Linked DNA regions of Homo sapiens. The protein of the gene in region 1 purifies or fractionates together with the protein of each later gene. This does not show direct contact. Each region holds a gene or a part of one and is shown in the gene's direction. Other genes may lie near its edges.

Region 1 (5,153 bases):
ACACACACACACACACACCCTCGCACTCTCCATCGCGCCCTTTCCAGCTTGCTTCCCGCTGGAGTCATTTCATTCTCCATTGCTGGAAAGCAGATGTGAGCAGAGCTGGACCCAGACACACACAGGCACTCCTGATTCCCTTGCGTTTCTCCTCCTGGAATCTTAATTTTACCCATGTAGTGCTGAAGGAACACAAATACAGCACTCGGGGCCCTAAGCAGGCCTGACCGTCACCTCCATGAGCCCCCTCTCCCCATAGCTCTACAGTGTCCATGTAGAAAAATCGTCAGTGAGGGCCAGTGGGCTCATCTTTGTCTTTTCTCTGAGATGCAAGAGCACCAGGCTCTGGGCCAGATGCTGCTAAGCGCTCACTGTGTGACCCCCTTGCTTTTCTGAGCCGTAGTTGTTGGCTCACATAAGATTAGGTATTTTTACTCGTTGCTTCCATCCACCCTTAAAATTCTGTGCTTCTGTTTGCACCCATTGCATCAGGGAGCCAAAGACAGGCCCCTGACTCCCACCCACGTGTTAACTCACCTCTGCCTCCCAATCCCTGGGGAGGCGAGCTTGGCTCAGCCTGCCTGCATGTTTCTGTGACAGAACGTAAGGAGCCACCTCCTACCTGAGCTTTCTCGCAAAGCTCAGACATGTTGATAGGAACTTCAGCTTTCATATTCCTTTTCTCCCACCTAATGAGCGCCCAAGAACAAGGTCAGATCAGGAAGACGGTGGGCGGGGCGGGGGGGGAGGTGTTCAGACATCTGGTGTGGAGGAGCCATTCCAAAGAGCCAGATGTGTCCAGGGAGCAGATGGGGACATTGCAACCCAGACTTGGGGGCACTGGCCAGCGACTACTGGACCAGGAAGTGAAGTCCCCATGGGTTTGGGTGAAAACTCAACACCACGAGGAAAAAAGGAAAAGCTTGTTTTCAGAAGTCATCGAATCACCAGAAATTAAGTCAGCCCTATCATTTGCCTTTTGCCTTTGTTTATGAGCTTTTGGTTTTGTTTCCTTTTGTTTTGTTTTGTTTTTGTTTTGCTTTGGTTTTAGTTTTATCTAGTCATGTGCTTTTGTCTTTTCACTTATGGTTTCTGCTTTTGGAGCCCCACTTAGATTTTCTCAACCCCCAACATTATGTCAATCTTCTATTTGTTAATTCTGCTATATGGTATAAAGCCAGTGTCTGTCTTACTTGTTTTTCCTAACTGGGTCATCAGTTTTCCCCAAATCACTTTTTACATTTTTGGAGGCAGGGTCTCACTCTGTCTCCCAGAGTGGAGTGCAGTGGTATGATCATAGCTCACTGCAGCTTCAAACTTCTGGGCTCAAGCAATCCTCCCACCTCAGCCTCCCAAGCACCTGGGACTACAGGTATGCACCATCACACCCAGCTAATTAAAAAAAAAAAAAATTTTTTTTTGGTAGAGATGAGATCTTGCTATGTAGCCCAGGCTGGCCTTAAACGATCCTCCTGCCTCAGCTTCCCAAAGTGCTGTAATGACAGGTGTAAGCCACCTCGCCCAGCCCCAAATCACTTATTGAATAATGCATCTTTGTTCCACTACAGTAAATTTAGCCTGGTTTGTGAACTTGGTCTGTGACAGTCTATAGAGGATCCACCTACTCTCCCTGCAGTGGCACCACAGCTGTCCCATTCAGTCATCTGGCATGGAGGAGCCATTCCAGCTAAGATGTTGGAGACAGCTTAGTTGATCTCAACATGTCTGTCCTTCTGGGTACATTTTTAGCAGCGACTCTATCCCTGCATCTTGCAAAAGAGACACAAACTGAGCTCCAGGGAAGGGACTTGTGCAAGGTACCACAGACTAGAACTCAGACTGCCTGACTCTCACCTTCTGGAGTCAATTCCCTCTCTAATAATACCTCCCCTTCCTACAGGCCATTTACCTCTACATACCACATCCACACCTTCTTCTTATCTCTCTAATTATCCTCAACTGACTGGGAAGTAGCAGGCCATTATGAAGTCCTCCTTTGGGCAACCCAAAAGTTGATAAATCTGATCCCAAGCTCCCACATTTGCCTGACTTTGCAGAACATGAGAGCCCACCCCAAGAGGGATCAGGCAAAGAAAAAGGAGCATGGTGGGGGGGCAGTGGGAATTGGTGTTCTGGGTGTCTTTTCCATCTACCCTCGGTGCCATTTCTCTCCAGAGTAGTGGGATTGCCAAGCCTTGCAGAACATGGTAGGGAAGGCTCCACTGGGCAAGGCCAGATGGATCCTAGGGCCTGGGAGTGGGCTGTGAGGTCAGAGTGCTCTAATGATAGCACATCCTGCTCCTCCCCACAGATACCTGGGCAAAGAGGGCTGGGCGCCAGCATCCTACCTGAAGAAGGCCAAGGATGACCTGCCAACCCGGAAGAAGAACCTGGCCGGCCCAGTGGAGATCATTGGGAACATCATGGAGATCAGCAACCTGCTGAACAAGAAGGCGTCTGGGGACAAGGAAACTCCACCAGCCGAAGGCGAGGGCCATGAGGCCCCCATTGCCAAGAAGGAGATCAGCCTGCCCATCCTCTGCAATGCCTCCAATGGCAGTGCCGTGGGCGTTCCTGACAGGACTGTCTCCAGGCTGGCCCAGGGCTCTCCAGCTGTGGCCAGGATTGCCCCTCAGCGGGCCCAGATCAGTAAGAGCCTCGCTGACCTCTAGGTCCTCACTGCAAAGCTCCTTAGAGAATGGGCATGGGTGCCGTGAAAGCCAGGGGGGTGCACAGGACCCCCATGGCGTTTTCCTCCTGGGCTACAGACTGGCCTTTGACCCTCACTCTGTCAACTTGTGTCATGCTCATCACAGGAGTGGAGAAGGCAGAGGAGTATGATGACTCAACTGCTCCCAGCTGCTCCACGGAAGCTAGATCACATGAGGATGTGGGTGGTAGCGTTCCCTCCTCTAGTGGAGAGCCAGCAATGGTCACTCTGCAGATACACGCGTTCCAAGAGCAAGAAATGTTTTCTTTTCCTTATGGTAAAGGCTTTATAAATCAAGATAGATGATGTGTAGCTGACTTTTAAAAAATCAAAAAAACACATTTCCCTGGGCTGTTGAATGTGGGTGCTATATGCAGGGCTGCCCTATGGAGTGACAGTCTGTAGAGAAACGTCTTTCTGGGCCTTAGCAGCTCCTTCCCTATGACTTTCCACTCGTTACTGGAAACCTAAGAGACTTGGGAGCTAAGGCTTTACCACTCTACACAGGCAGTTTCAACAGGGCGTTCTTCAAGAATCATCTTCATTTCTACAGGAGACTCCAGGCAGTCTGGCACCCTCCATCTCTGGCCCAATAATGCCTTTTGTTGAGGCTTAAAACTTCCATGTTATAGGAACCTAGCTTTTGTTTGTGTCCAGCCATTCTTAAAATCTGGAGGAAAGCTGTTTCTTTAGTTTAGCTCCACTGGGTTAAGTTAGCTCTCGTGCCTGAAATCTTTTAGGGAACCAGCTGGGAAACAGTTATTGGGCACCTCCTCTTGCCTGGCATTATGCTAGCTTCTATGGATTTAATAGTAAGCAAAAAACAGACATGGTCTCTGCTCCTAACTTTGAAAACCTGATAAATCTATACACCCGTTACCCTGAAAAATGCCCACATAGCTGCACATTTTGAAAAGTGCACATAATTTTAGAGTGTTCATAGATCCCCTGGAAGCACAGCCAAGGTAAAGGTCTATAGTTTCCCCTTGAAAAAGCCCAACCACAGTGCCCATAGTGACTTAGAGTGTCAAGTCCTTCATAAAGGCTGAGCTAAAGCATGAACTTGAAGGATCAGGAGTTAGTTTCACCTAGGGAAGGCAGGTATGGGTACTGTTGCCCATCGTCTGACTAGGATTTCTGAAGCCATGTCTCTTCCTCTAGGCTCCCCGAACCTACGGACAAGACCTCCACCACGCAGAGAATCCAGCCTGGTATGTGTACTGAATTTCTTCTCCCCTTTCCTTCCTTTTCTGTGAATGCGCTATAGCCACCCGATCAATTGGCTATCTTGCGGCAGAGCCTCTTGATCCAGGGGTTTTCCAGAGCCCTGCTGGGGCTTCTAGTTTTGTGGGGCTAGGGGCAGGGAGGGAAGCCTGCAGATCCCAGCCTTCCTGGAGGCCTGGCTGGACAGTTTATAATCGGAAACACACTGCACTCCAAAGCTAAATAAATCCATCCCAGCCACTGCATTGGCAGACATAAACATTTAGACTGCCCGGCAAAAGTGTCCAGCCAGGGCATTGCCAGAGGCTGGAAATGGGGCTCCTGTCCATGCTAGCCTGGAAGCCTTTCAGCTTTCCCTGGTCAGGAATGCCCAGTGGAGGTGGTGGATGGCAGAGTCTGGGAGGGCAGAGGGCAGATCAGTGAACGTCTTCCAGGGAGGAGTGTGAGTTGCAAGGAGTGGCTCACGCCCCAGCTTTAAGAGGTTAACACTGCCAGGGTCCCTGGTTCATGTGGGTGGGGTTTCCTGGTGTCCAGACCCTCGGGCAGGTAGATACGCATCAGGGGCCAGGGCTTGGGGTGCCTGCGATGCTGGTGGCAGGCTGAGAGCCTTGGAACAAAGAACTGTTAGTAAGCGCAGTGGGATGTAGTGGAAAGAGTGTGTCTTCAAGTGCCAGGCATGGATTCGGATTCCACTTCTGACACTTAGAGGCGGAGAGACTGTAGGTAAGCCAGTTGCCCTCTACAAGCTTCAGTGCCCTTATTTATCAGACGGGACAGTACTAGCCATCTCTTAGGGCTGTTGTAAGGATGAAATGAGATGATTTATGTGGGGGGCTAGCAAACAGGTTTCCATTTCCTATGTCAGCTCTTGCCTGCTTGGTAATACTACCTGGTGCACTGGGTTAAGGAGGATTCTGAAGTCACATCTGGGCTTAGCAACAAGAGTTACTGTGGTCAGTGACATCAGCCCTGGCTAAGGGAGATGGCACCAGTCTATGGAAGAGTAGGCCCTCCATAAAAATATGGTTTTTAAAGATTTCATCCCTGGAGATGAGACCTTCCTTGCCTTGGCCATGGACCCCAGTGGAGTTTCTCTTTTTCCTCCTGAGTTTTACACACCCAAACACTGAATTCTCCCTCTCAACCATCTCTCCTAGCCACGGCTAATTATTTTCAGGCAGACTTGATTTTGGCAAGAATGGGGTAATTCCTTCCACAC
Region 2 (5,153 bases), on another chromosome or scaffold:
CGCAGTCTCAGCTCACTGCAACCTCCGCTTCCCGGGTTCAAGTGATTCTCCTGCCTCAGCCTCCCAAGTAGCTGGGATTACAGGCACGCACCACCACGCCTGCTAATTTTTGTATTTTTATTAGAGACAAGGTTTCACCATGTTGGTCAGGCTAGTCTCGAACACCTGACCTCAAGTTACCTGTCCACCTCGGCCTCCCAAAGTGCTAGGATTACAGGTGTAAGCCCCCGCACCCAGTCCCAGATAGTTTTTTGATCTTCTCTTTTTTTTTTTTTTGGAGACAGAGTCTCACTCTGTCACTTAGGTTGGAGTGCAGTGGTCCGATGTTGGCTCATTGCAGCCTTTGCCTCCCGGGTTCAAGTGATTCTCATGCCTCAGCCTCCAGAGTAGCTGGGATTACAGGTGTGCACCACCACACTCAGCTAATTTTCATGAGGTTGGTCAGGCTGGTCTCAAACTCCTGATCTCAAGTGATCCGCCCACCTCGGCCTCCCAAAGTGTTAGGATTACAGGCACGTGAGCCTCCGCACCCGGCCAATTTTTTGTATCTTTAGTAGAGACAGGGTTTCGCCATGTTGCCCAGGGCAGTCTCAAACTCCTGAGCTCAAGCAATCCGCCCGCCTCAGCCTCTCAAAGTGCTGGGATTACAGGTGAGCCACTGCGCCCAGCCAAATGCATTGTCAACTTACAGTATTTCCAACTTACGATGAGTTTATTGGTACATAACCCTGTCATAAGTCAAGAAGCATCTGTATTGTCATAATTGTTCTATTATTGTTAATCTCTTACTGTGCCTAATTTATCAATTAAACCTTATCATAGGTATGTATGTATATGAAAAAAAACATAGTATATATAGGGCTTGGTACTATCTGCAGTTTCAGGCATCCACTCGGGGGGGTCTTGGAATGTATCCCCTGTAGATAAAGAGGGACTACTGTATTTGGAAACATCTAGTCATAGGATAAATTCCTAGCAGTGGTATTGCCAGGTAAAAGGGTATTTGCTTTAAAAAAAATTTTTTTTTTGAGACAGTCTCATTCTGTCGTCCAGGCTGGAGTGCAGTGGTGTGATCTCGTCTCATTGCAACCTCCACCTCCTGAGTTCAAGCAATTCTCCTGCCTCGGCCTCCTGAGTAGCTGGTACTACAGGCGTGCGCCACCATGCCCGGCTAATTTTTGTATTTTTAGTAGAGATGGGGTTTCACCGTGTTGGCCAGGATCGTCTCGATCTCCTGACCTCGTGATCCACCCGCCTCAGCCTCCCAAAGTGCTGGGATTACAGGCATGAGCCACCGCACCTGGCCTGCTTTTTGAACTATTAATGGGTGTTTCCAAAATGCTCTCCAGACAGGTTTTATCAATTTATGATCTCAGCCGGGCGCTGTGGCTCATGCCTGTAATCCCAGCACTTTGGGAGGCTGAGGCAGGTGGATCACGAGGTCAGGAGATCAAGACCATCCTGGCTAACACGGTGAAACTCCGTCTCTACTAAAAATACAAAAAATTCTCCAGGCGTGGTGGTGGGCGCCTGTAGTCCCAGCTACTTGGGAGGCTGAGGCAGGAGAATGGCATGGGCCCGGGAGGCGGAGCTTGCAGCGAGCCGAGATCGCACCATTGCACTCCAGACTGGGCGACAGAGTGAGACTCCGTCTCAAAAAAAAAAAAAAACGAATTTATGATCTCATCAGCAGCACATAAATGCCTGTTTCCCTCACACCCTCGCAAACATTGGTTACTGTAAAACTGCAAAATTTGCCAATCTGATAGCTGAAAAGTGGTGTCTCTTGGGGGCAGATGTGATAGTCATTTTGTTGTGATTTTGGAGGAATACATACACATGGTAAGAAATTCAAACAGTACACAATTGTTGGGTATTTAGGATGTTTCCATGGTTATGATGAGCATCACGCAACAAACTTCTTTACATAGTTGCACAAGTATAGCTGAAAAATTCTTAGTTGTTATTAGACTTTCTTACATAAACATTTTTGTTGTGAAAAATAACAAACACAGATTGCTTTTTTTTTATGTAGTAAGAAGGCTGCTTTCTTCCCACTTCTGTCCCACATCTACCCCAGAGGGGACCAACTTTTTTTTTTTTTTTTGAGATGGAGTCTTGCTCTGTCACCCAGGTTGGAGTGCAATGCCACAATCTTGGCTCACTGCAACCTCCACCTCCCAGGTTCAAGCGATTCTCCTGCCTCAGCCTCCTGAGTAGCTGGGATTACAGGCACCTGCCACCACACCCAGCTAATTTTTTTTGTATTTTTAGTACAGAAGGGGTTTCACCATGTTGACCAGGCTAGTCTCAAACTCCTGACCTCAGGTGATCCACCCACCTCGGCCTCCCAAAGTGCGGAGATTATAGGCGTGAGCCACTGCACCCGGCCAACATTTTACCAGTTTCCAATGTGACCTCCAGATACAAGCAGGTGTGTACCTGCTTGTATGTGTTTGTGTAACAAAGTGGGTATAAATGACCTGATCTCAGGCTGCCCATAATCCTTGGCACAGTACCTTGCACATAGTAGGAAGTTGTTTTCAACGCCTTCTATATTACCCTCCTTGTTTTGGAAACTGTCCCTGAGGCCTCCAGGGCACCAGGGGCCCTGAGAGCTCCCTCGTATCCCCTGTCCAGGAAGAAGAACTTTGGCATCAGCTACCTGGGCCGGGACCGGCTAGGACAGGAAGTTTACCTCTCACTTCTATCTGACTGGGACCTCAGCACAGCCTTTGCCACTGCCTCCAAACCTTACCTGCAATTGCGTGTAGATATTCGGCCCTCGGAGGACAGTGAGTACTCAGTGCCCCCAGGAGCACTGCTCTGGAACCCCTTTACCCCATAGGGTGATGCTACCCCTCACAGTACACTCCCTCATGGTGGGATGGGTAGCAAGGTATCCTAGCTATAGATCCTGGCTCAGCCACTAGGCCACAATTTCTTCACTTGTAAAGAGATAATTGTATCTTAGAACCATTGTGAGGCCTTGTATCTTAGAACCATTGTGAGGGGAAATTCATATAAAATGCCTGGAACAGTGCATGACTGCATAATGAAGGCTCAGAAAGTGTTATCTCTAATAATGATAATTATATTGTATTATACTATTATAACATATAACCGAGTAATGTATGTAATAATTAGATATAATGCAGATTTATAATATAGTATAACGGTATAGCTTTAGCATTATGTATTTCAGTTATAATACCTAAATATAACAATGCGTATTATAATAATGCTAGTTGTGTTTATTCATTCAGTCATTCTGCACCCATATTCATTTGTTTGTATTCTTGCTCACTCATTCATTTGTTCCCTTGACCTCTCAGCCACTTTTTCTCTTCTCATCTTTGTTCTTCCACTCTTGCCTATTCTGGTCCCTGCGAGCACACAGATAAATTAGGACGTGGTCTCAAAATTTGATTACAGACCATACATTAGATAATTGTATCAGTATTAAATTTCCTGGGTGTGTGTCTTAGTCGTTTTGTGCTACTATAACAGAATACCACAGACTGAGGAATTTGTAAAGAAGAGAAATTTATTTCTCACAGTTTTGGAGACTGGGAAGTCCAAGATCAAGGTGCTGGCAGGTTGTGTGTCTAGTGAGGGCTTTCTTGCTGCATCCTCACATGACAGAAGAGCAGAAGAGAGTGAACCCACACCCTCAACCTCTTTATAAGAGCCCAAATCCGCTGGGCACGGTGGCTCATGCCTGTAGTCCCAGCACTTTGGGAGGCTGAGGCAGGCGGATCACCTGAAGTCAGGAGTTCGAGACCATCCTGGCCAACATGGTGAAACCCTGTCTCTACTAAAAAAAATACAAAAATTAGCCGGGTGTAGTGGCACATGCCTATAATCCCAGCTACTCGGGAGGCTGAGGCATGAGAATCGCTTGAACCCGAAAAGCAGAGGTTGCAGTGAGCCAAGATCTTGCCACTGCACTCCAGCCTGGGTGACAGAGCGAGACTTCATCTCAAAAAAAAAAAAAAAAAGAGGCTGAGCACGGTGGCTCACGCCTGTAATCCCAGCAGTTTAGGAGGCCGAGGCGGGCAGATCACAAGGTCAGGAGATCGAGACCACCCTGGCTAACACGGTGAAACCCTGTCTTTACTAAAAATACAAAAAAATAGCCGGGCGTGGTGGCGGGTGCCTGTAGTCCCAGCTACTCGGGAGGCTGAGGCAGGAGAATGGCATGAACCCGGGAGGCGGAGCTTGCAGTGAGCCAAGATCGCACCACTGCACTCCAGCCTGGGCAACAGAGCAAGACTCCATCTCAAAAAATAAATAAAATAAAAAATAAAAAAAGAGCCCTAATCCCATCTGTGAGAGCTCTACCCTCAGGACTTAATCACCTCTTAAAGGCCCCCACCTCTTAATATGATCACATTGGTAATTAAATTGCAACACATGAATTTGGAAGGACACATTCAAACCATAGCAGTGTGGTAGTGGTATCATATCTATTGAAGGAAAATATCCTTGTTCTTGGGAAAGACACAGTTAAGTATGAAGGGGTAAAATGTCATGATGTCTGCAAATAAGTTGGCAAAAATAATGTGTTTATATACAGAGAGAGTGAGATAAAGCAAATGTGGCCCAAAAAAATGTTAATAGAGGATCTAGATGAAGTATGTATGGGTGTTCAGTGTATTCTTTTAACTTTATTGTAGGTTCAAAATTGTTTTAAATAGTTGTGGAGTGGAAGATGTGGTTCCCAGCCTCAGGAAACTCATGTGCCCATTTGGGATGAGTCGAGCACTTTATTGATGTCATAATAACATATAACTAGCTAATGTGTAGTGAACACTTAGGGCCATTCTGTGCACATAATATTTTTTCACTGAATTGTCAAAATAATCCTATAGAGTAGGGACAATCATTTTCCCCATATTATAGATGAGGAAACTGAGGCTCAGAGAGGTGACAGGACTCGTCCCAGTTATACAGACAGTAAGTTGAAGAGCAAGATTTGAACTCAGGCAGTGGCTGAACTGGCTCCAGAGTCCTTGTTCTTAACCATTTAACTCTACAACATTTTGGACTTGTTAAAATTGGCAGCTTTGCAAAAGAGAGACAGAGGAGAGAGAGAAACAAGAGTCAGAGGGAAAGATAGTGACAGAGATGGGCAGGAAGCCAAATAGGAA
Region 3 (5,153 bases), on another chromosome or scaffold:
GGTAGTTCTTTGTCCTTGTCTTTGACCGCTAGCAAAGAATGCCTCTCCAGTCATACGTGGAAAAACTTCTCAGATGTTTTGTATTCAGTTGAAGGTTTAAAAGGGCTGACCCTGGATTAAAAAAATGAAATGAATTAATAATCCTCAGCTTTTCTTTATCAGAATAGAGTCCCCTATTCTGATCTGTTTCTAGAACCACAGTAGAAAGGGGTATTTGTCAGGACACAAAGCCGTAGGAAAAAACAGGATTTGAGGGAACAATGTTTGGGGAGCAGGATGCCACACCTGGAAAGGATGAAATATCACAAAATGTTTTTTATTAATGACATCTGCAAGGAAAACTTTATTTCCTCATAGATCCTACCTATTTTAAAGGCTTCTGTAAAATGTCTTTCTTATTTTATTTCCTCCACTAAAACAATGTTGTAAATTATGAAAGTCTATCTAGTTCTTAATAGTCCCTGTAGATTGCAGCTTGGTTGAGCTGAGGACTTCAAGAAATCAACTAGTAGACCCCTGTGTCAGTACTTCTCAAACTTAAAGCACACAGATCACCTGGGGACCTTTTAAAATGCAGATTCTGGTTCAGTAAGTTTGGGATTCTGCGAGAGTATTTCTAATAAGCTCATAGGTGATGCAGATACTGCAGGCTCAAGGACACACTTTGAATAGCAGAGTACTAAGTGACTATTTGTCTACTTGAGATGCCCTGCGTTTCTGTTTTCTCCTTTTCCTTTCAACAGATTCCAAGCCTTGATTGTTTGTTGGTAATACATGTCTTTAAAACTAGATTGGCATTATTAGTTGGGGAGAAGAGAAGTGTGTACAACTGAAATAAAGGAGCATGTAACACCTTTCTAATATATGTACTTTTTGTAAGTGTAATGCTATCTTAATGTGTATTTTCGATCCTATACTTTCCAGCCTGTCCCTCTGATTAGATTAGCTATTTCTTTTTGAATGTGTTCCCAGGTAGCCACCCACCAGGGTCTCTCCTCCACCCTCTATAATTGCTAGCTAGTGTGATATCCCCACATGTGTGCTTTCATCTGTTAAAGCAGGGTATGCTGTGTTGTAATTGTCTTTTGCACTAGATTATTAGTTTAAGGGAAAGGGTCTGTGTTATTCTTGTATCTCCATTTTCTAGCAGAACCATGTCTCTGGATGAGTATTTTCTGAATCAGACACACTTTTCAAAGAGCTTTTGACTCATTGGATCAGAGATTAGATAGATATTATCCTAAAACAAGATAAAAGGAAACTCAGATTCAGAGAGATTAAGAAATTTGTCCAGTCACAAAGCTGGTGAGTGGCAGATAGTAGGGATGAATGCCAGTTGATTGCTTTTCCTCAGTATCATTCTCTTTTTCTTTTATAGTATAGTGGTTCAGAAACATGACCACCTGTAACACTTTGCTTGTGGGAAAATTGATAATGAAATGTAAACCAATTTAGAAATGAAACTTTGTGATACATCCTGTTGTAAATTGTTCAGTGCTCTTTTCAAAACCATTCTTTTTTTGCTTTGCTTTGCTTTTCTTCCTCTCTCCCTCCCTCCCTCCCTCTCTCCCCCCTCCCTCTCTCCCCCCTCCCTCTCTCCCTCTCTCCCTCTTTCCCCCCTTCTCCCTTTCTCTTCTTTCTTTCTGGAGTTTCACTCTTGTCCCCCAGGCCAGAGTGCAGTGGTGCAGTCTTGGCTCACTGCAACCTCTGCCTCCTGGGCTCAAGCCATCTTCCCACCTCAGCCTTTTGAGTAGCTGGGACTACAGGTGCGCACCACCATGCACAGCTAATTTGTGTATTTTTTTGTAGAGATAGGGTCCTGCCGTGTTGCCCAGGTTGGTCTTGAACTTGTGAGGTCAAGTGATCCATCTGCCTTGGCCTCCCAAAGTGCTGGGATTACAGCTGTGAGCCATCATGCCCAGCCTTTTTTTTTTTTTTTTTTTTTTTAAAGAGTTTCACTCTGTTGCCCAGGCTGGAGAGCAGTGGTGTGATTATAGCTCATTGCAACCTCGAATTCTTGGGCTCAGGTGATCCGCCTACCTCAGCCTCCCGAGTAGCTAGGACTATAGGTGCACACCACCAAGCCTGGCTAATTTTTTTTTATTTTTTATTTTTCTTAGAGTTGAGGTCTTGCTGTATCACCCAGGCTGGTCTCAAACTCTTGGCCTCAAGTGATCCTTCAACCTCAGCATCCCAGATTGCCTGGATTACAGGCATGAGCCACTGAGCCCTGCTTGTTTCTTTCTAGTGTGTCTTTTTTGCACAGCTAAGGTTTTACTGTATACATAGTTTGTTTCATTCTTTTTTTTCCACTTGACGTGTGTTTTCTGTATTCCTTATAAATAATCTAATATGTACTTCCTATATGGTAAAATAAGGTGACATTTATGTCTTAACTACTTAGAGAGAAATATATATGTATTTCCATATAGGTATGCCATATGTACTGTTCTTCAGCTTTCTTTTTAAATGAATATTGTCTTGGACATCTTGCAGTGTTAGCACATAAGAATCTGTCTTATTCTTTTTGGTCGGTACATAGTATTTAATAGTTAAAAAATATATTACTTAACTATTCTTTTGATAGACATTTATAGTGTTTTCTTTTTTGTCATTTTAAACAACACTGCAACAAGTATCTTTGTGTATACATACCTTTGTGTACTAATTTTTAGCTTTTAAATTAATTTGTTACAGGAATTTCTGTTATAAATGACATGGCTAAATATTGTCCTCACTGACTTTGAGAACATTTGTCTTTTAATAGAGGAATTTAACTTGTTCATATGTATTGTGACAACTGATACATTTTTTCTAATTACTGCTACCTTACTCTTTTTTTTTTTTTTTTGAAATGGAGTTTTCCTTTTATTGCCCAGGCTGGAGTACAATGGCGCGATCTTGGCTCATCAAAACCTCTGCCTCCCAGGTTCAAGTGGTTCTCCTGCCTCAGCCTCCCAAGTAGCTGAGATTACAGGCATGCCCCACCATTCCCGGCTAATTTTTTGTATTTTCAGTAGAGACCGTGTTTCCCCATGTTGGTCAGGCTGGTCTCGAACTCCCGACCTCAGGTGATCCACCCACCTCAGCTTTCCAAAGTGCTGGGATTACAGGCATGAGCCATCACACCTGGCTGCTACCTTACTTTTTAACTTTCCAGTTTTCTTGTATTTTTTTTTTTAACCAGTGAGTTAGAAATTTTATCACCTTTTTTTCTGCTCTGCTAATTATTACCTTTTAATATTTAACAAACAGATTGAAAAATTAGGTTTTTTTTGCATGTAGAAAAACTAAACAGTCTCTTTAATTACTCCTGCCCATACTTCTTTCTTTATTTTTTTGAGGTGGAGTCTCACTCTGTTGCCCAGGCTGGAGTGCAATGGCATGATCTCAGCTCACTGCAACCTCTACCTCCTGGGTGCAAGCAATTCTCCTACTGGGTGCAAGCGATTCTCCTACCTCAGCCTCCTGAGTAGCTGGGATTACAGGCGGGTGCCACCATGTCCAGCTAATTTTTGTATTTTATTTTTATTTTTTTTGAGACGGAGTCTCGCTCTGTCGTCCAGGCTAGAGTGCAGTGGCAAGATCTCAGTTCACTGCAAGCTCCGCCTCTCGGGTTCATGCCATTCTGCTGCCTCAGCCTCCTGAGTAGCTGGGATTACAGGCGCATGCCACCATGCCCCGCTAACTTTTCATATTTTTAGTAGAGACGGGGTTTCACCGTGTTAGCCATGATGGTCTCCATCTCCTGATCTTGTGATCCGCCCGCCTCGGCCTCCCAAAGTGCTGGGATTACAGGCGTAAGCCACCACGCTCGGCCTAATTTTTTGTATTTTTAGTAGAGATGGGGTTTCACCATGTTGGCCAGACTGGTCTGGAACTCCTGACCTCAGGTGATCCACCCGCCTCAGCCTCCCAAAGTCCTGCGATTACAGGCGTGAGCCACTGCGCCCGGCCATCTCCTGCCCCACACCTCTTACCTTTTTCATTGTGTTGGTTTTATGTAAATTTTCAGGAAAATTAGTCCCAAATTTTTGTTTGCATTGTCCTTTCTCCCCAACCATACTCCTGTAAATATATGCTTCTTTTTATGTTGTAAGATTTGCTCAGCTGGGCACAGTGGCTGACGCCTGTAATCCTAGCACTTTGGGAGGCTGAGGCAGGCAGGTTGCTTGAGCCCAGGGATTTGAGACCAGCCTGGACAACATGGCAAAACCCCATCTCTACAAAAAAATATAAAAATTAGCCCACCATGGTGGTGTGTGCCTGTAGCCCCAGCTATTTGTTGGTGAGGCTGAGGCAGGAGGATCAGTTGAGCCTGGGAGGCAGAGGTTGCAGTGAGCTGAGATCATGTTACTGCACTCCAGCCTGGGTGACAGAATGAGACCCAGTCTCAAACAGAGGGGAAAAAAAAAGAAAAGAAAAAGATTGGCTCATAAAATTGCATTAAACGTCACAGTTATTATTATTATTTTATTTATTTATTTATTTTGAGACATAGTCTCTGTTGCCCAGGCTGGGGTGCAGTGGCACGATCTTGGCTCACTGCAGCCAAGTGATTCTCCTGCCTCAACCCTGCAAGTAGCTGTAACTACAGGTGTGCATCACCATGCCCAGCAAATTTTTGTATTTTTAGTAGAGATGGGGTTTCACCATGTTGGCCAGGCTGGTCTCTGGAGCTCCTGACCTCAAGTGATCATCCACCTCTGCCTCCCAAAGTGCTGGGATTACAGGCGTGACCTGCCACACCCAGCTCACAGTTATATTATTAATAATTAATTGGATTTAAAATTGTAGTTCTTTCTTATTACTGCTGCTTATACTATATCTCATGTCATTCCCTTCTCATTTTATTGGGGGAAAAATCCTTTCCCCTTCCTTTCTTTCTTCCCTTTTCTTCCCTTCTTTTCTTTCTTTCTAGTAGTTTGAGTCCTTGCAGGCCTGAAAATTGCTTTATTTTGCCACACTGTCTCTCTCACCCCTAAACCTGACTGATATTTGGTTGAATATGCAATTCTAGATTCAAAATATTTTTCTGTCAGAACTGCCTCCTTGTTCTAGCATTTAATGTTGGATATGAGAAGTCCTATGCTTGTCCATGCTGTGGTTATTTGATTAACTTAATGTAATACCACTGTTGGACATTAATAGGT
Region 4 (4,073 bases), on another chromosome or scaffold:
GGAGGTTGAGGCTGCAGTGAATCATGATTGTGCCACTGCACTCTTACCTTGGGTGACAGAGTAAGATCATACCTTAAAAAAAAAAAAAAAGTATACCCATGGGTCAGCAATTTCACTTTTCAGTATATACTTGAGAAATGCTTGCACAGGTCCCCCAGATCACACATATAAGAATGTTCTGGAATAAATTAAAATGTCTATTTTTAGGAAGGTGTAATGTGTTCACAGAATGGGTGATTATTACATGGCAGCAAAATGAATGAATACCAGCTACTTGCAGCACAATAACTCAGAATGAAAAAGCAATTCTGAGAAAACTATATGTGACATGATACTTTTCTTATAAAAGTCAAGAACAACTAAAACTGAACAGCTGTTTAGGCATTGACATATGTGACAAAACTTTTAAAAAGTAATAAAGTTCAAGATAGTGGTTACCTCTGGAGAGGTAGAGGAGGAGCAAATCTATGAGTAAGTCACTGGTAATGTTTTAGTCCCTGGGTTAGGTGGTGGGTTTTGGGGTGGTTCATTTGTCATTAAAAGTAAGTACATGAGCTGGGTGTAGTGGTGCGTGCTTATAGTCCCAGCTACTTGGGAGTCTGAGATAGGAAGATCCTTGAGGCCAGTTCAAGGCTATAGTGTGCTATGATTTCACCTGTGAATAGCTACTATATTCCAACCTGGGCAACGTAGACCTTGCCCCCCTTTAAAAAAATTCAAAAACAAAATAAATGCATGGACAAATGAATAAGAGAGTTATGCATGGAACATCGGTGGTGTATTATGAATCAAGCATTATTACTAGCTCAGTTATATGTGCCTTCATTCCAAAACAAAAAATAAAAGGTAAGAAAATTGTTGAATTGCATTTGAGAGAGAGGAAAGGAAAGAATTCAGGTCTGAATCTTAGGCTTTTGGCTTGAGCTATTGCAGTTTATTGAGATGGGGAAATACATGGTGGGGAAAGTTTGGGTATGTGCATAACAGAGACAGAAATTCAGTGTTTGACAGATCAAGTGTGAGGTGCCCACTGAGCATCAAAGTGGATATGTTAAGCAGGTATTGGATGTACAAATCTAAATTCAGTAAGGTCAGTCCAGGAGAAAATTTGGGGAGTAGTTAGCCATGGGATCAGATGGGCGCTTTAGGGACACTTTGGAGATGAAGTACAGCACTGAGCCCTGAGTTCCTGTGACAGAGAAGCAGCCTGCAAAGACGAAAGGAGGAGCTGTTAGGAAGAGCAAGGCAACAGAAAAGGAAGAACCAGCATGCTGATTATGTTCAGGAGAGTGTTTCTACGCTGAATTTAATTGCCAAGATTACCAATTCTAAAGAAGAGGAGGACTCTTGGACAAGTTTTTAGAAGTTGGTTTGGAGCTGGGGTGAGAGCCTGGCCTAATGGAGACAGCTCTGGATTGGGAGTCACTTAGACCTACATTCTGGTCTAGGTTTGGCTCCCAAAAACTGGGAAGGTTAGTTAGGTGGCCACTCCTCTCTCTTCATGGTCTCTCTCAGCTTGAAGACAATTTACAGTCTTTGACTAAGCATCCACACTGGAAGAACAAGATTTGGTTTCTGAACATTGGGTCTTAGTCCTTAAAATAACTTGCAACCTGTTACGTCTTCACTTACTCCCATCGCCACCACAAGAATCCTGTGTGTTTTTGTTTTGTGCATCCAGTCTAAAACGGGTCTGCTTTTATTCATAGGCTTTTGTTTTCAGTGGTTTTTGTTGTTGCATTTTTCCCTAGATAAAATGTTTTTTCTATAAGACACTGCTTAAAAGAGTCCAATGCAGTATGAATTTGTATTTGTGTTTAACTTTTGTGCTTAACAGATCTGCCATGGCTGAACTCTCAGTTGCTTAAGCAAAATTCTGGGGCTTATTCTAGGTTCCTTTATTTGTCATTGTCACTCCCATTCCAGTTATCAGCAAATTCCATCAGCTGTCTCCGAGACATCTTAAATCTGTCTACCTCCCTCCATGTCCACTGCTACCACTCTGCCCAAGCTATTATCATCTTTCACCTGAACTCCTGCACTAATGTCTGCTGTCCTTGCATCCACTCCTGCCCTCCTACAATCACTGACGGCAGCCGCAGGGATCTTTATAAAACGAAAATCAGATAATGTCACTTCCCTGCTTAAAGCCCTTTGAGTGGCTTCCCATTGCACTTAGAAAAAAAAAAAAAAAAAAAAACTGGCCAGGTGCGATGGCTCATGCCTGTAATCCCAGCACTTTGGGAGGCCGAGGCGGGCGGATCCCCTGAGGTTGGTAGTTCGAGACCTGCTTGGCCAACATGGAGAAACCCTGTCTCTACTAAAAACACAAAATTAGTCAGGTGTGATGGCGCATGCCTGTAATCCCAGCTACTTGGGAGGCTGAGTCAGGAGAAACGCTCGAACCCAGGAGGCAGAGGTTGTGGTGAGTTGACATCACGCCATTGCACTCCAGCCTGGGCAACAAGAGTGAAACTCCGTCTGAAAAAAAAAAAAAAAAACCCAAACTCAATAGAAAATCAAGTTTTCATAGTGGTAGTTGTTAACAGAGAAATAACAATGAAAGCTTTAAAAAACTCCATGAAAATTTGCAAAACTTAAAAAAAAAATGTAGAAGAGGACTAAACTTGATAAAATATTAAAAGAATTGAAACCCTTCCTAAAGGCAGCTTCTCAAGGGAGCACAAGTTCACACACAGTTTACTTTTGGAGGAACGTCTGAGGTCATGAGGACTAGATTCTAGAGCTACAGGTCTCAGGGACAGTCTCGAGGGATACAGGGCCCCCATCACCACATCCCCAGATTTAACCGCAGCAGCTCAGCTTTTATCTGTATCTGTTGGAGCTCTCTAGGAAATGTCAATACCAAAGCAAACCCAAATCACAACTAGATTAGATTACTATTCAAGAGAATGATTCTCTACCGAAACTCTGCAAAATGGGGATATCAAGAGAGTTGGAAAATGTAAGACGTAAAGACCATAATCAGGAAAATACGCATCATATTTGTTATTCACTGAGAGGGAGGAATTTCCACTTAAATCCTATTTCCAGCAGCTGGATTGTGCTCTCAGTGGAGTGCTCTGGATTCTGATTAATAGAGATTTTCTAGTCCTCCCAGCAACTTCCTTCTCAATTCTCTTCACTTTCCGCAGATCTCGGCACCAGGGTTGCATCTTGTGGGCTCCATTGTGTTTTCACACAATGTGCTATTTGTCCTTCACAGTGTTTTGGTTTATTTTTCTGTTTGTCCATCTTGTTTTTGAACAATTGCCAGCATTTAAAAATGAGGAAATCTAAAATCTGCATTTCAAGCTGCTCTTTTTTAAAATGTGCCGTTTCGACAACACTGAGCCCACAGTCTTGAATGACAACACTTGGGTGGAGCTGAGTGACTCCACCTGTCGGGTGGCTACACCCTTGCTCAGGGTATGCACTCCATGGTTTGCTCTATGGCCCACCATCCTGGATTGTCTCCCTGACACCAAGGCTAAGGGACCCACTTTACTCACTTATCTGCTGGGCCTTGGAAGTATTTCAGTTCGGAACCCCAATTCTAACCTTAGCTTCTCAGGCCATTAAATGAAATCTCATTTCTATGATGCTTCCTGTCACATCACTGTGCTGCTGAGAACATGAAGTCTGTGGGTGAATTGGTGGACGGGATCCAGAATCATTACTTGGCAGTGGATTATAGTGTGATGACTCATTTCCGGTGGTCTCCAGGAGACTTGGCTGGGAGCTTCTCTTGGAGTCTAGGGTTAGCCAGAGGCTACATGTTTTAGGCATCTTAATTCATATTTTATCTAAAGGCATATAAATCCTTAAAAAAAATCATTTGACTTCATCCTTGCTCCCTACATCCAGCCAGTAACCATTGCTTTGTTTTACATCGCGTGCTTCAGGCTTTACTACAGCCTACCTGGATTTTGCAGTAGCTTCTTAAACTGCTTAAACTTTGGATATTGCCCCAGCCAACACATTCTGCCACAGAGATCTCTCTGAGTTAAATGGGATTGTATCATGCCCCACACCCAAGCAGATAGAAACTGTCAATAGATACACTTAGAATG

What was found. The genes of interacting proteins can lie anywhere in the genome.
Region 2: the proteins of SH3PXD2A (region 1) and TBC1D25 purify together in Homo sapiens (affinity purification with mass spectrometry, with the first as the bait; one large-scale study listed by BioGRID). This does not show direct contact.
Region 3: the proteins of SH3PXD2A (region 1) and MIB1 purify together in Homo sapiens (affinity purification with mass spectrometry; one large-scale study listed by BioGRID and IntAct). This does not show direct contact.
Region 4: the proteins of SH3PXD2A (region 1) and RAB3IP purify together in Homo sapiens (affinity purification with mass spectrometry, with the first as the bait; one large-scale study listed by BioGRID). This does not show direct contact.

Annotation. Positions count from the first base shown.
Region 1 is NC_000010.11:103,610,349-103,615,501, reverse strand, and holds part of SH3PXD2A (SH3 and PX domain-containing protein 2A), read left to right. Parts: intron 1-2,311; coding exon 2,312-2,649; intron 2,650-3,871; coding exon 3,872-3,921; intron 3,922-5,153. UniProt on the Homo sapiens protein: Adapter protein involved in invadopodia and podosome formation, extracellular matrix degradation and invasiveness of some cancer cells. Binds matrix metalloproteinases (ADAMs), NADPH oxidases (NOXs) and phosphoinositides.
Region 2 is NC_000023.11:48,542,229-48,547,381, forward strand, and holds part of TBC1D25 (TBC1 domain family member 25), read left to right. Parts: intron 1-2,640; coding exon 2,641-2,795; intron 2,796-5,153. UniProt on the Homo sapiens protein: Acts as a GTPase-activating protein specific for RAB33B. Involved in the regulation of autophagosome maturation, the process in which autophagosomes fuse with endosomes and lysosomes.
Region 3 is NC_000018.10:21,746,807-21,751,959, forward strand, and holds part of MIB1 (E3 ubiquitin-protein ligase MIB1), read left to right. Parts: intron 1-5,153. UniProt on the Homo sapiens protein: E3 ubiquitin-protein ligase that mediates ubiquitination of Delta receptors, which act as ligands of Notch proteins.
Region 4 is NC_000012.12:69,818,375-69,822,447, forward strand, and holds part of RAB3IP (rab-3A-interacting protein isoform alpha 1), read left to right. Parts: 3' UTR 1-4,073. UniProt on the Homo sapiens protein: Guanine nucleotide exchange factor (GEF) which may activate RAB8A and RAB8B. Promotes the exchange of GDP to GTP, converting inactive GDP-bound Rab proteins into their active GTP-bound form.